Homo sapiens: one gene and its partners. The protein of the gene in region 2 purifies or fractionates together with the protein of the main gene of each other region. This does not show direct contact. Each region holds a gene or a part of one and is shown on either strand. Other genes may lie near its edges.

What was found.
Region 1: the proteins of GPM6B (region 2) and ALG11 purify together in Homo sapiens (affinity purification with mass spectrometry; one large-scale study listed by BioGRID and IntAct). This does not show direct contact.
Region 3: the proteins of GPM6B (region 2) and SEC63 purify together in Homo sapiens (affinity purification with mass spectrometry; one large-scale study listed by BioGRID and IntAct). This does not show direct contact.
Region 4: the proteins of GPM6B (region 2) and FAM162A purify together in Homo sapiens (affinity purification with mass spectrometry; one large-scale study listed by BioGRID and IntAct). This does not show direct contact.

What each region holds. Positions count from the first base shown.
Region 1 is NC_000013.11:52,025,549-52,029,397, reverse strand, and holds part of ALG11 (GDP-Man:Man(3)GlcNAc(2)-PP-Dol alpha-1,2-mannosyltransferase), read right to left. Parts: intron 1,080-3,849; coding exon 808-1,079; 3' UTR 594-807; coding exon of another isoform or gene 1-593. Other genes in the region: UTP14C (U3 small nucleolar RNA-associated protein 14 homolog C), read right to left, coding at 1-593. UniProt on the Homo sapiens protein: GDP-Man:Man(3)GlcNAc(2)-PP-Dol alpha-1,2-mannosyltransferase that operates in the biosynthetic pathway of dolichol-linked oligosaccharides, the glycan precursors employed in protein asparagine (N)-glycosylation.
Region 2 is NC_000023.11:13,782,168-13,786,366, reverse strand, and holds part of GPM6B (neuronal membrane glycoprotein M6-b), read left to right. Parts: exon of another isoform or gene 1-394; intron 395-558; coding exon 559-745; intron 746-2,845; coding exon 2,846-3,002; intron 3,003-4,199. UniProt on the Homo sapiens protein: May be involved in neural development. Involved in regulation of osteoblast function and bone formation. Involved in matrix vesicle release by osteoblasts; this function seems to involve maintenance of the actin cytoskeleton.
Region 3 is NC_000006.12:107,899,209-107,903,057, forward strand, and holds part of SEC63 (translocation protein SEC63 homolog), read right to left. Parts: intron 3,791-3,849; coding exon 3,636-3,790; intron 2,310-3,635; coding exon 2,162-2,309; intron 1-2,161. UniProt on the Homo sapiens protein: Mediates cotranslational and post-translational transport of certain precursor polypeptides across endoplasmic reticulum (ER). Proposed to play an auxiliary role in recognition of precursors with short and apolar signal peptides.
Region 4 is NC_000003.12:122,410,159-122,412,834, reverse strand, and holds the end of FAM162A (protein FAM162A), read right to left. Parts: 3' UTR 501-2,676; downstream 1-500. UniProt on the Homo sapiens protein: Proposed to be involved in regulation of apoptosis; the exact mechanism may differ between cell types/tissues.

The sequences.
Region 1 (3,849 bases), on a different chromosome or scaffold from region 2:
ACTGGCTGCTTGTTCTTATGGAGGAGGTTAAAAATTTCCTGCTCCAGGGGAGTTCTTGCCTTCCAGCCACTGAGCGCATGTTCAATGGGAGCAATGGCTGGCTGCTCCTTCCCCAGGGGAAAAACCAGCTGCTCTGCCTGCTGGTTCTTCAGGATGATAGGGTCCCATTTGGAGAGGACCTGTGAGGTTTTACTGAATGCTACTTCTCTGTGGATCTGTTCAATTTTTTCTTTGTTAAGAGGTAACTCCACCACCTTCTTTGATTTGACTCTATTCAGTTGCTTTTTTACAGTGGCCAAAGAAGATGAAGTTTTAACGGGCTCAAGCAGATCTGCAAGGCCCAGCTTTTCTCCTGATCCTTCAGAACTGACACTGAACTCTGACACTTTCAGACTAGCCTCAGACCTCTCAGCCAATTTCCGCCTATTCTTTCCATCAAGGGAAATGATTGCTTCCAGAAGCTTTTGATGCTTTCTCTCTCCATCACTGTCCCCCTCATCTTCATTTTCACTCAAGGGGTAGTTTTTTGGCAAATCCACTAGTTCTTCCTGGTGGCTCAAAGCCAGATTCTCTGCAACCTGGTTCACATTCATCTCAGCAGCCAGCCTCTCTCATGTATACCAAGAATGGAAGCCGAAGGCTAGTCATCCATTTTCTTTTCAACACTTCCTTTTATTCTAAAAGGAAATTTTGTCTGTTTTCTAAAGTAAAATGATTTGACAAATGAGATTGAATTTAGAAAAATATTTACATATGAAGGTGTTTAACCAGTTTATATAAAATATCTTTAATTTTACAGATATGGCATTACTTAAATAACTTTTCCACAGATGATAGGAATGTCACTTCAAATTCCTGATCAGAGAATCTGCTTACAGATGCACGAGCACTTTTTCTGATTTGGAGTCTCTTTTCTGCAGACATGGAAAGAATGTGAGCGATAGTTTCAGCATAGTCTTCTTCACTCTCAGCCAGAAAGCCAGTTATATCTCCTTCGTGAGGAACCACAATGTCAAGCTTTGGGCCCCCCGAATTGTGTGCAAGGATAATTGTGCCAGCTGCCATACACTCCACAACTCCTGAGAAAAAAAACACAAATCATGTAATCTTTTAAGTTTTTGAGTGTGTTCATAAGAATGAGGATGAATAGAAATCTTCAAAAAATTTAAGGGACTTATGAGAAACTTAATTAAATGTATGTCTAGACATTTGCTTATTCAACTTCTACAGTACAAGATAAAATAATTTTAAGTTTTTTAGTTTTCAAAGCTTCATAATAATACTGCTTCACTTTTTTTTTTTTAAGAGATAGGGTCTCACTATGTTGCCCAGGCTGGCCTCTAACTCCTAGCATCAAGTGGTCCTCCCATCTTGGCCTCCCAAAGTGCTGGGATTTACCAGCGTGAGCTACCACACCCAGCCTGCTGCTTTATTCTTAGTTAAAATAGACAAGTAGATGGAAGACTAGCCTATTAAAAAAGATATATTGCAGATAATTAAAAAAGAAGACTAGAGAATGTTAGCAAGATGGTAGAATATTAACAGGTATTAGAAAAACAAAAGGAGTAAAAACATATAAAAAACAATTTTAATAGTTCAAATTACATTAGCAGAAAAAATAAAAAAGTGAATCACCTAAGTGAAGCATACTATCGCCGTGCTTATGTTACTGCCTGGATTTCTGGCATATTTGAGACTACTGCATGCCCAACAACAGTGCTGAACTAAATGAAAGTTGTGGTTAGTTTCTGCCAAATGATACACATGAAATATAAATTACTCTAGCCAGCCCTTCTTAGCCATATTCCTAGGAGAATTAAGCCCTTCAGGGAATGATTCAAGTGACTGCTTTCCCAATTATCTGAAGGATGGTACAGAGCTGATATCATCCTGGATGTATAGGAGAGAAATTAAATCATTCCAAATGTTTTTAGAACTGGTGAAATCCCTGCAGAACAGAATTCAGTAGCTCATATCATATTCTGCTTGAAGCTGGAGAGCATCCTGTACTTTCTCAGAGACCTGCATCTTTTACCCTTTCCCTCTCTACTGGCTCCTTCCTATCAGCTAGGAAGCTAGGGCACCACATGCCCTTTCTCAGGTCCTGCAACACCCACCCCTAGCCACTGTCTCTTCTCCCCCTCCCCGTACTTCACAGATAAACTTACTGAAAGTGTGGTTTGCACTTACCAACTCTACTTGTTCACTTCTGAGTGCTTGACTTTTGATTTTTGCTCATAGTCTGACTTTTGCTTCTACTTCTCCCTCAAGACTGCTCTTGCCCAGGTCACCAGTGACTGCCTTACCTTCCCCAGCATCTGGGCAGCATCGGAATCTGTGCCCTCTCCATTCTTCTCCAAACACTCTCTTCCTTGGTTTCTAAGACACTGCACTTGGATGGCTTTCCCCGCCTCTCCATTTCTTCTCCCCATTTCTCAGCTGTTCCTGTTCTCTGCATTTTGTACTGAGAGCCTCTTTTCACTCTGTACATATTCCCCAGGCGATCTTAACCACATCCACGGGAGCTTTGATAACTACCTGCACAAGGACAATCCTCATTTTTTATTTCCAGACCAGACTCCTCTCAACTTCAGACTCCTATATACAAAACTACCTCCTGGACGCATGCCCTCACATGTCCCACAGATGAACTCAAATTCTGCAGGTTCAAAACTTGGCTCATTAATGGCATTTGCTCTTGGATTTCCCCTCTGGGAGAAAGCCAACACCATTCTCACAGCTGCCCTGCTCCCAAAACCCTAGGTAGTCTTCTCTTCCTCCCTCATTTAACACATCCAGTTAATCACCAAGTCCTGGTCAATACTACTGCAGAATGTTTCTCAAGCATGTTCACCTACGAAGTTCAGCTCATGAGCACCTCCATCTGGGCTGCTACAGTAGGCCGGCTCATCTTACTGCCCTTCCAGTCTTGCTCTCCCTGCTCTTCACTGATCCACTCCCCATGTGGCCAGAATGGACTGGAGAAATCAGAAAGCTTTTACGTGCAATACTTAAAATCCTGCTATTTTTTTCCACTGGCTTAACCTGGCCTATATCACCTCTCTGTTGTCTTCCTGCTGAATGTTCCTATTGATGCATCTGTTGTCACTCCTGTCACAGTGCTGTTCCCTCTGCTGGAGACTCTCCCCTCTCTCCTGGCTAACCTCTATTGTTCGGGTCCTGCTCAAGTGTCACATCATTTCCTTGGGCAACTGTTCCCTGCCCGCACAAGTCTGTGTTAGGTTTCTCTTTGGCGCTTTCACATCACCCTGCACTTCCTTAGCATAGCACCTGGCACACGGCACAGCACGGCACGGCACTTGCCTGTGTAGCCTGTTGGTACCACCAGAGGGTGGGAAGCCTCTGACAGGCCAAGCAGCTCCTGTCTCCACCACATCCCTAGCATCCACCCAAGCGCTCAGCAGAGTGAATGCTTAGTAAGTTTCTATGGAAGGAAGCACAGGAGGTCAGATCCCATGCAACAGGTTGGGTCAACAAGTTCTTGCTTAATGTCTGGGCCTAGCACTACACTACTAACTAGGAGTAAAAAGAGTATAAGAGAAATTGAAGTCTTAGTTTAGGAAATGTCACTTTTATGTTATCCTCATTTCCCCTAACAACTAACAGTGTGAGGCACAAAGCGCTTGAGAAATATATGTGGACCCAAATTAAACACAAAGCAGTACTTGATTTTATAGCAAAATGTGTGCTTAACAGGTCAGAATAGAGATAGCAGTTTGTGCCAGAATAAACAAGAAAGGCTAAAGTGCAAGGAGATTTAAGTTGAAGACTTATGATGCAATCTGGCACAAAGAGGAGAGCCATTCCAATGGTGAGGGTAGAATCAAT
Region 2 (4,199 bases):
AACCTGGCGACGGCATAATTGCTGTATCAGATTCTCCCAGTTGCCCCGGAGGTCCAGGGCTTGGGGAAAGCCGTTGGTTGCCACAGCAGCAGACGTATTGAAACCCCAGAACTGTGAGGCTGGAGACGACCTGACTGTTGCTTTTCTTCACAGAGCTGCAGCTTCACTGCTGTCCTCTCTTTTGACTGTGTTAGTGGAATGAGTGCTTCTTGTTGGCACTTGAGCGGGGCTCCCCCCACCACTCAGTCGATCAGGAAGCTCTAGAACTGTAACTACCTTATAACTCTTTGTCAATTGACTGCTCTGCCATTCACTACCCTTCCAGATTCTGAGCAAATTAAGTTACATTCCCTTTTGGAGCCTCAGGGTCCTCACCGCAGAATGTGAGATCACGGTAACTACCACACTGGCCCTTGGGATGTCGAAGTATTAATATTAACCATAGAGCCTGAGAGGGGAGATGGAAAATTGTAAGCCTTCTCTGTGAATATGGGGTATTCTTGAAGACCAGAGGTGTTCTTGCCCGTAACGGCTATATTTTCTCTCCTTTGGGTTCAGGCTGCTTTGAATGCTGCATCAAGTGTCTGGGAGGAGTCCCCTACGCCTCCCTGGTGGCCACCATCCTCTGCTTCTCCGGGGTGGCCTTATTCTGCGGCTGTGGGCATGTGGCTCTCGCAGGCACCGTGGCGATTCTTGAGCAACACTTCTCCACCAACGCCAGTGACCATGCCTTGCTGAGCGAGGTGTAAGTATCCGGTTCCCTTTAAAAATGCATCTAAGGCCTGGCGTGGTGGCTCATGCCTGTCATCCCAGCAATTTGGGAGGCTGAGGCAGGCAGATCACCTGAAGTCAGGAGTTCAAGACCAGCCTGGCCAACATGGTGAAACGCCACCTCTACTAAAAATACAAAAAAAAATTTAGCTGGGCGTGGTGGTGCGTGCCTGTAATCCTAGCTACTTGGGAGGCTGAGGCAGGAGAACCAGTTGAACCCAGGAGGTGGATGTTGCGGTGAGCTGGTGAGCCGAGATGGCAACACTGCACTCCAGCCTGGGTGACAGAGTGATACTTTGTTTAAAAAAAAAGTATCTGAGATGCAACCACCTCATGATGTTTTTCAGAAAGACTACAGTGTGCTTTCCTAGCAGAAGATGAATGCTTTTACTTAAAGCTCACTTTATGTAGTTAGAAAAAGGTTCATGAGAGAAGGAAAAAGAAAGGGCCTAGAATATGGTAGCTGTTTAGGCCCCAGGGTGGAATGTTACTTGGGAATGGTAAGGTGCACACATAGGACACTCCACACATGGTAGCTGTGGACATGGGGAGCTGTGACATGGTGATAGGTGATGCTGCCGATTGTCTCAACAGAATTGTGTTGTTCCCAAGTAACAGATGCCTCCAGCTTTCTCCCAGGAAGTGACCATCCCTGGAATGGTAGGAGCCCTGTTGAGGACTGACCCCAACTCTAAGCCTACAGGAGCAGTATTTTAACATTAACTCTTCCAGCAGAAGAGCAGATCCCAGGGCATCCTCCATTGCAGAAGAGCAGATCCCAGGGCATCCTCCATTGCAGAAGAGAGGAAGGTCCAGGGGTTTAGCAGCAGATCTCTGCCTTTCTTTCTGGAAACATTCTCAATGGAGTCGCAGTGACTCCCACACATAGATTCTTGTAGCTGTGCAAGCTCAGCAGCAATCTACTTATTTCCTTCACATGTCTTCCCCTTTCTCCATTTCCTTCTACCGTTTCTTTTTCTTCCCTTGAATCCCAAAGTTCCAGTGTTAGTGTGTCTTATGATTATAAGAAACTTCTTCACCAGACTGAAAAAGACATGAATGAATTTTTATGGAATGGTCATGGAGTCATGTTGGAGACTCTTCAGTCCTTAGGGAATTTTATTCTTTCTTATCTGTTCACAAATGACCTCCAAAGAAATGAACACAGGTTGGGGAGATTATAAGGAGGGCTCAAGCAGGACAGGGGACTCACTGAGTTCCAACTATGTGCAAAGAAGAAATGTTTACCAAGACTGAACCTGGGAAAGGTGTGTTGATTTAATTAGGTAGTGATCTCAGTCTGTGGCTCTCAAACTTCTGAGAAGCTTTAAGAAAATCCCCATGCCTTACCCCAGACCAATTAGGACATAATCTCTGGGGGCGGGATCCAGGTACCAGTATTTTCCAAGCTCCCCAGGTGATTCCAGTGGGCAGCCGAAGGCTGAGGACATGTCATTTGTCTTTGTTAGCTTTTGTGGGACAAACTGCATTGTGAATTAACTTTCTGTATCTTAAACCTACTCGACCTACTACTATTTGTGTGGTGGGAGTCACAGTGCAAAAGACATCTCCCCAGATTACCCCCTAAAGAAGCCCTGAGTGCCTACTTAGGGGTTTTATCAGAGTGACATTAACCACTAGGCCTGGTTGGGAGGCATTTTGAAAGGGCAGAAAGAACATGTTGTCCATTGGGCCAGGGTTCAGATGCTGGCTTTGCCACTAACTGTGTATCCTCCGATGAGGAGCTTAACTCCTCAATGCCTGTGTTTTACTTATGTGCAAAATGAGGATTCTAACCCTTGCCGCCCAGGACTCAGGTAAGGATTAAAAGATTACAACTGGATGCTGCCCTGAGCAAAGGAAACATCATTCCCACCTTGGAAGGAAGGCCCAGGTTGCTGGGACATGGGCAGGGATGCCGCCCAGGATGCCCCACAAGTCCATCAAAGCCATCAGTGGGGCGAGTGACGCACTCACAGGAACATCCCCCTCATGTCCTCTCTCCAGCGTCCAGAAACGTAGTCACTACCAGGCAGTGAATTTAATGGTTCAGGATCTCTTCTTCTCTTTGTAGGATACAACTGATGCAGTATGTCATCTATGGAATTGCGTCCTTTTTCTTCTTGTATGGGATCATTCTGTTGGCAGAAGGCTTTTACACCACAAGTGCAGTGAAAGAACTGCACGGTGAGTTTAAAACAACCGCTTGTGGCCGATGCATCAGTGGAATGGTGAGTTGAACCTCTGATAACTGATTGTTTGATATACAACCAGAGCCATGCCTTGATGTATTTCCTTGTATTTGGCAAAAGCTACCAGGTATCGAGCGTGAATGGAGGGTCCATGACACAAATATTGGCTTTACCAATTTAGAGTTAGGACTATAAAAACCTTCAACATGCTATTGATAGTAAACTAAAGTCTATGGCTGGCAGAAATAAATCAAATGTTTTCATCAGTGTAAAGGTGAAAAGGGTGCTGAAGATTTTTCAAATGCCAAGTTCCCACTATAGAAGGAGGTAACTTTCATGTGGTCTCAGTGCTCCCCTTTGGTTGTCTTTAAATATGGATCATAGCCATAAAGACATACATGAACCATGGAAAATCGTCCTGATCCTTCTGTAAATACTTACCAGTACCTGCTGTACAGAGCGCCTAGCTGGGCTTTGCTAGCCACTAGAGGTGCAAAGATTAAAACACAGGCTGCTTTCTCAAGCAGCTTATAGTCTAAGACAGGGGTTAGCAAACTAGGGGCTGTGGGCCAAATTTGACCTACTACCTGTTTTTGTACAGCTCAAGAGCCAAGAATTTTTTTTTTTTTCTTTTTTTTTTTTTTTTGAGACGGAGCATCACTCTGTCTCCAAGGCTGGGGAGGGCAGTGTCGCGATCTCCACTAACTGCAACCTCTGCCTCCCGGGTTCAAGCGATTCTCCTGCCTCAGCCTCCTGTACAAGTCAGGGGAATGGTTACTTTTGTAGGGGAAGGAGGCAGCTGTTAAATAAAATGCCTGTGGAAAGCAGAGGGAAAATAGCCACAAATAGTGGGAATCCTCCTCCAAAGGAAAAAAAAACCAAAAACATCTCCTCACAGCTTTAAAATGACAGCTTTCCCCCTCACTTCTACCCATCAAGTTTCAAAAATAGAGGTCTAGTTTCCACCAGGGCACAGCATTAAGTCATCCACTGCCTGATGTTTAACATATTTGGATCCTTTGAGCATTGGTCAGGACACAGTACATGGTGGAGAGGAGAGGAGCTTGTTTGTACTTGAGCTAGTGGCACTTCACCTAGAGATGGGGACACTGTGAGGGATCCACAGCCCACCTAGCATGGCCCGCTTTTAGCTCTTATGTCAGATTTTGTTGGAGAAAGTCGAAAGCCCCCTTAGACTGGAGAGGAGCTTGACCATCTTGCTTGATTTCATTGCCA
Region 3 (3,849 bases), on a different chromosome or scaffold from region 2:
TGCCCCTTTCCTGCTTCTATATTTCTTCTACTCCTCCTTCACCAACTATAGCACTATTATTACATAATTAGGCAGCACTGTAAAAATATAAATAAACTGTCTATCCAAGATGCTATGGAGTGGATCCATGGTAATATTTGTCAGTGAGGCCGAACACTCTTAAATTTCTACTTTCTATAAGAAAATCTCTTCTAATATTCATTTTTCTAAGAAGCATGTACTTTTGGCCAGGCATGGTGGCTCACGCCTATAATCCCAGCACTCTGGGAGGCTGAGGTGGGTGAATCACCTGAGGCTGGGAGTTCGAGACCAGCCTGGCCAACATGGTGAAACTCCGTCTCTACTAAAAATACAAAAATTAGCTGGGCATGGTGGTGGCACACGCCTGTAATCCCAGCTACTTGGGAGGGCTGAGGCAGGAGAATCACTTGAACCTAGAGTTGGAGGTTGCAGTAAGCCCAGATAGTGCCACTGCACTTCAGCCTGGGCAACAGAGCAAGACTGTCTCAAAAAAAAAAAGAAAAGAAAAGAAAAGAAAAGGGTATACTTTTAACAGTTCTTAATATCACAAAGTATCTCTAAGTCCCAAAATTTTTATTTGGACAGTTTTATTAAATCAGCACAGTCCTAAATACAGCTTTTAAATTAGTATTTTTAAAGTCTGAAAACTCATGGCCCCACAAGGCAACCCCAACTCCTCACCAAAGCAAACCAAGTTTTCACAACACATATGCTACACTCCAGCCAAACTGAAACCAGATTGCACTGTTTGCCTTCCTTTCCCAATTAGAATTCCTATTAGAATACAAGCTCAATAAGCAGAGGGTATGTCTTACCACTGCTTCCCTAGCACCTAGAGGAGTGCACAGCATTCAATATTTGCTGTATAAATAAATGGTACAATGTCTGTGTCATTCACGTTAACACTTAGCATATGTTATCTTGGTGTGTGTGTGTTTTTTTTTTAATTTTATAAAGACAGGGTCTCACTATGTTGCCCAGGCTGGTCTCGAACTCCTGGGTTCAAGTGATCCCCCTGCCTTGGCCTCCCAAAGTGTTGGGATTAAAGGCATGACACCACTGGGCCCAGCCCTTATCTTATTTTTAAGCCTATTGCTTCAACTAGACAATAAGCTCTCTTTAAAGACACAAACCAGGCACGGTGGCTCACACCTATAATCACAGCACTGCGGGAGGCCAAGGCAGGTGGAGCAGTTGAGCCCAGAAGCTCGTGACCAGCCTGGGCAACATGGTGAAACGCTGTCTCTACTAAAATTACAAAAAATAAAATTAGCCAGGTATGGTAGTGTGCACCTGTAGTCCCAGCTACTCAGGAGGCTGAGGTAGAAGGATTGCTTGAGCCCGGGAGGCAGAGGACGCAGTGAGCCAAAATCGCACCACTGCACTCCAGCCTGGACGACAGAGTGAGACCCTGTCTCAAAAATTATTTATAAATAAATAAAATAAAGACAGAAACCATTATTAATATATCCCTGTATTCTTGGTAACTAAAAGAATGTTCTCATAATAGTAACTTAGCAAATGTTAAAGCTCAGACCACCACCACAATGAAAGAATGGAGCAGATAGTCTCTAATTCTCTCAGTATTCTAAGACCATTCAGATATTGAAATAGAAACACAGAGCAATTATATAGGTAGAAAAATAGCCTTTATTTTTTTCCCTCAAAGAAAATATAGAGGTAGGGCAAGAAAAACACATGAAATGTGGCATAAAACACAGTAATTTTCAACATTTAATTAACATAAATAAGTTGGGTTTTAAAAATTTAATTTTAGAACTAGGCAGCTATTTCTTTCATACTAATAATATACTTCAAATATCTCATTCTTTTATTATGCCTGGAAGTCTTCATCATTCTTTGGAAAGTTAAGAAATTGCTAAAAGTTGAACTACAGAACAGAGTGTTCAGACTTCATCCCATTATGAGGATAATAAAAGTAGGACTCTATCAGTGTTCTCAAACTATTAGGTATAAATCATTTTCCAACATAGTAAATCTGACAGGTAAACTACAGTTCTGCAAAGTCTAATAACAAGTTATGTTATTAAGTACAGTGTTTTGAGAATCCTGAGTCAAATAAATGAGAACCAATCTATCAAAAGGGAAGCAATGCTCAACAGAGAAACCTCCCACTTACCCTGTGATTTTATATCCATGGTCACATATGGAAAACTCCCAAGGACAGCCATAACCTCTTCATATTTTTCATCTTCAAGGAAGTGCAGTAGAGTGTGACGATCTGATTCTTTTAAACTCACCAAATCCTGGATAGTTTTAATTTTATACTGAATAAAAAAAAAAAAGAAAATACATAATTCCCTAACTCACAAAGCTTTTCATAAAAAGAAAATTACTCACATGTTAACCACAACAAAATCCAGCAACTTTTAGAAAAGTGTTGATTAATGTGCATTTCAAAGTACAAAATAACGATATGGCATTTCATGACCTTTTTCTCCAAGAAAATTTAAATTAAGAATTTTTAAATTATAAAGTTAATACAGGCTTATTTTTTTAAATTAGAAAAAACAAAGTTGGAGGGAAAAAATAAGAATCTTGACTCAACCAAGAACTTTGTCAATTGATGTCCTCAGTTTATTTTCAATTTTAATAACAAAAACCTTTAATTAGCAATTAATAGGTTTACTATTAACAAACCTTTAATAATAAACGTTTACTTTTACCTAATAAAAGTAAAAATAAACCTCAATAAAGACGCACCTTCAAAGTTTTACTATGCAATATTCTCATTTTTGTTATTCTTAAAATATAGCTATTACTACAGTAATATCCATCTTGGCAAAATGGTTACTTAGGAGCGTGTTCTTTAATTTTCCAGGTGTTTGGTGCTAGTTATTTTTCACTTTCAAAGACACAGATTAGATCATGAGGCATGTAAAATCTCTGCTTTTAGATTCTGAAGTTTTTAATTATGACTTAACATACAATCAAATTTATAAGGGGAACATGAGTACTTAAAAGGACAGAGAACTCTGATACTAATTTCCAACATGCATTTATTAATTCTACATTAATATACTATCAAATCCAATGTCTATTCTCTGCTAGTTTTATCTATCATATACAAAATAATGTTTAAAATCTCCTACTAGAATTGTAACTTCAGTTTCTTATATTTCCTCAAGTTTTTCATTTACACAAATTTTTGTTATATCTTAAGATTCATTATCATGTTTATACTATAGATTATATATTCTAAATAAGAACTGTCTTTATTTGATTTATTAAATGTTTTTGTTGTTCATGCTTAACCAGTAAACAATTGCCCAACCTTAAGCCAAGAATAAAATGACTGTAAAGTAGACAGTACATTTATTTTTGGTAACATAATATAAGGAACTAACTGTTGACTTTTTAAATGCAACAACCCCCAAAATAATAAAACTACTTACAGTAGTAAAATACTATAAAACACAGCTACCTAGTCAAGAAAATGTTAACAGAACCACCTGAGAGAAAGTTTTAGAGTATTTAAGACATTCTAAATCTAAAAAATGCATAGTAACCATTTCCAGAAAACTTTTATTCATGTTACCTTTAAGTGACAGGACAAACTGCTGAAAACTGACTTTAAAGTAGCAAAGAATTACCTTCTTATGATTAGAAACCCGTCTAAGATTGTCCTCTTCAATATGAGGGAGCTGCAGAAGGGGAGACTTAAATTGCTGAAGTCCCTGAACGGCCATCTGAGAAAGCTTCATGCAGTTTTCTAGGGATGCCAAAGTTGGAGCACGAAACTCCCTTTCTTAGAAAGAACAGGAAAAAAAGAAACAGGGCTGGACTTTTTACATGTTCAGGAGTATA
Region 4 (2,676 bases), on a different chromosome or scaffold from region 2:
ATTCTAAGAGTCTAAAAATTTCAAAAACCAAAACAACATTATAAATGGTGTTTCTCAAGGACCTTTCACTACCTTTTTAGATTGTGCTTGTGATTTTCAGGCAAGCTAAATGTCTGATGAAGACTGCTCTTCTTTTGTTCTGTGTCTGACCTACTAATTCCTGCCCATGCTTCAAACTCAGTTCAGAAATCACTGAAGGAACCATCCACTGCCGGCCTGCCTGCAACCACAGCTGACAGCTGAGTTAGTTAGGTTTTCCTGTCCCTATTATTTACCAGTTTGTACTGAAATGCTTTCATGGGCTGTGCTTCCAGATTATGAGTTCTGTGGAATCAGGAAGTATGTCTCTGTATTCTTGTATTCTTTGGCTTTTTTGTGTAGTAAAGGGACTCAAGTAATGTTTGACAGTGAAGGATACAACTTCATTCCTTGCCTGCTTTGATAAATTTTAGTAATAAATTCCCAAAACTATCATGTTGATTAAAAATAAAAAGTAACCGTAACCTCACACATTAACTTTATTCAAACAAACAGCACTTACAGGAAATGTAAAGTAGAAAAAGATTTCTGCCCACTTTACCTACGGAGACATGATAAACACGCAAAAAAAACCTAGAAATTAAGCAAAAAATAGCACAATAATTTAACTGAAAGCAACAAGGGCAAAACTGTCTCCTTTTGTAGTTTGTGGTACCTTATAGTAGTGCTCATTCAGTTTCGTTTGCTTGATAAATCTGAGGACTATGAGATATCAGAGTTACTAGTAGGGTAGGAGTGCTGTAAGGGTACTGGGAGAAGTAGGATTAGTTAGGGGCAGATCTTGAATTCTGGCCAAGAAACTGATATTTAACCCATAAAGAGATAGTCACTATATGTTATCAAATAGGAGAATAACACAAATGAGAAATGACTGTTAATTCCTGATGCATAATAACAGTTGTGAGCTTTAGTTTAATGTAATATTTGTAATAAAAACGTTTGGCCAGGCACCATGGCTCATGCCTGTAATCCCAGCACTTTGGGAGGCCGAGGGAGGCTGATCACCTGAGGTCAGGAGTTTGAGACCAGCCTGGCCAACATGGTGAAACCCCCGTCTTTATGAAAAATACAAAAATTAGCCAGGTGTGGTGGTGCACACCTATAATGCCAGTTACTGAGGAGGCTGAGGCACGAGAATTGCTTGAACCCGGGAGACGGAGGTTGCAGTGAGCTGAGATCATGCCCTGCACTCTAGCCTGGGCGACAGTGCAAGACTGTCTCAAAAAAAAAAAAAAGGTTTCATTAAATTTAAGCTCATAAATGTTACTACATTTATAATGTAAATCTCCAAGATACAACACATTTTTGTTGTATTGCTCTATGAAGAGGATTATTTTTAAAAGAAATTCCACATTAAAATTTATCCACATTTAAAACATTGGTGTAGGTGTCCCAAAATAAGAAAAACTAATCTTCTAAAATGTACAAGAAACTATGCTTTTTGAAAATAAATTTGCAAGTGATAACTTGATACCTACAAAGAAGCTAAGGCCAAATTAAAGTATATAGACAGACATCATAAACATCCTCAGATAGATTATCAAGCTATAGGTAGTATGTTACATTTTACTGGGTATTTTATTTGGGAAGAAAGTGCCCAAACAGCTGCATGTATTTTTAATCTCTCTTATAACTCTCTGAGAACCAGCATGTTGGCATGGCTGTATACAGTAGTCACCCCTTACCCTCTGGGGATATATTCCAAGACCCCCCAGTAGATGCCTGAAACTGTGGATAGTACCCAACCCTGCATATACTATGTTTTTCGTATACATACATACCTATGATACCGTTTATTTTATAAATTAGGCACAGCACAATGCACTTTGAGGCAATTATTAAATAAGAGTTACCTGAACACTAGCACTGATTCCACGACAGCTGATCTCGTAACAGAGACGGCTAGCACATACAGTGTGAATACACCAGAGAGAGGGATGATTCACATCCCAGGTGGATGGAACAGATTGGCAAGAGATTTCATCATGCTACACTGAATGGTATGTAATCTATAACTTATGCATTGTTATAGGAATTTTCCATTTAATATTTTCAGACCTCAGGTAACTGAAACCACAGAAAACAAAGCCGTGGATAAGAAGGGACTACTATAATGGCTTGTCATCCATGAATAATTAAGAAGCATGTGAGAATCAATGTTTAAAATAGAAACCTGTATTCATACCTAAATATGAGACAACTCGATATCCCAAGGTCAAACTGTAAATGAGATATATATGAGGTGCAAATACTTCTAACAGTAATAATACATGAGATTTTTATAATTGAGAAATTTAGTTTCTCAGGTGGTAAGAAAACAGCCAGTTGAGAATTCTAAGGCATGAAGCTAAGAGGTGACTTGTGTTGACCCCAAGCAACTCCATGACGCTGGGATTTCTAAGTCCTTAGAAATTCCTGGCTGGACCTTGTCAGAATGTTTAAAAAACTATTCTCCTAAAAGCCTCCATCTGCCAGCATGTTCAAAGATTATAGAATGTGGTCTGGCTGCTTCTCAGCGCTCGCTCTATTAGGGGGCAGCCTCCCCACCAGTACACCAGGACATTTGAGAAGGCTGGCCCTCCAAGCTGCACCTGGGCCATATACTCAACTGGCCTTCCTTATCTCCTCAAAATGAGT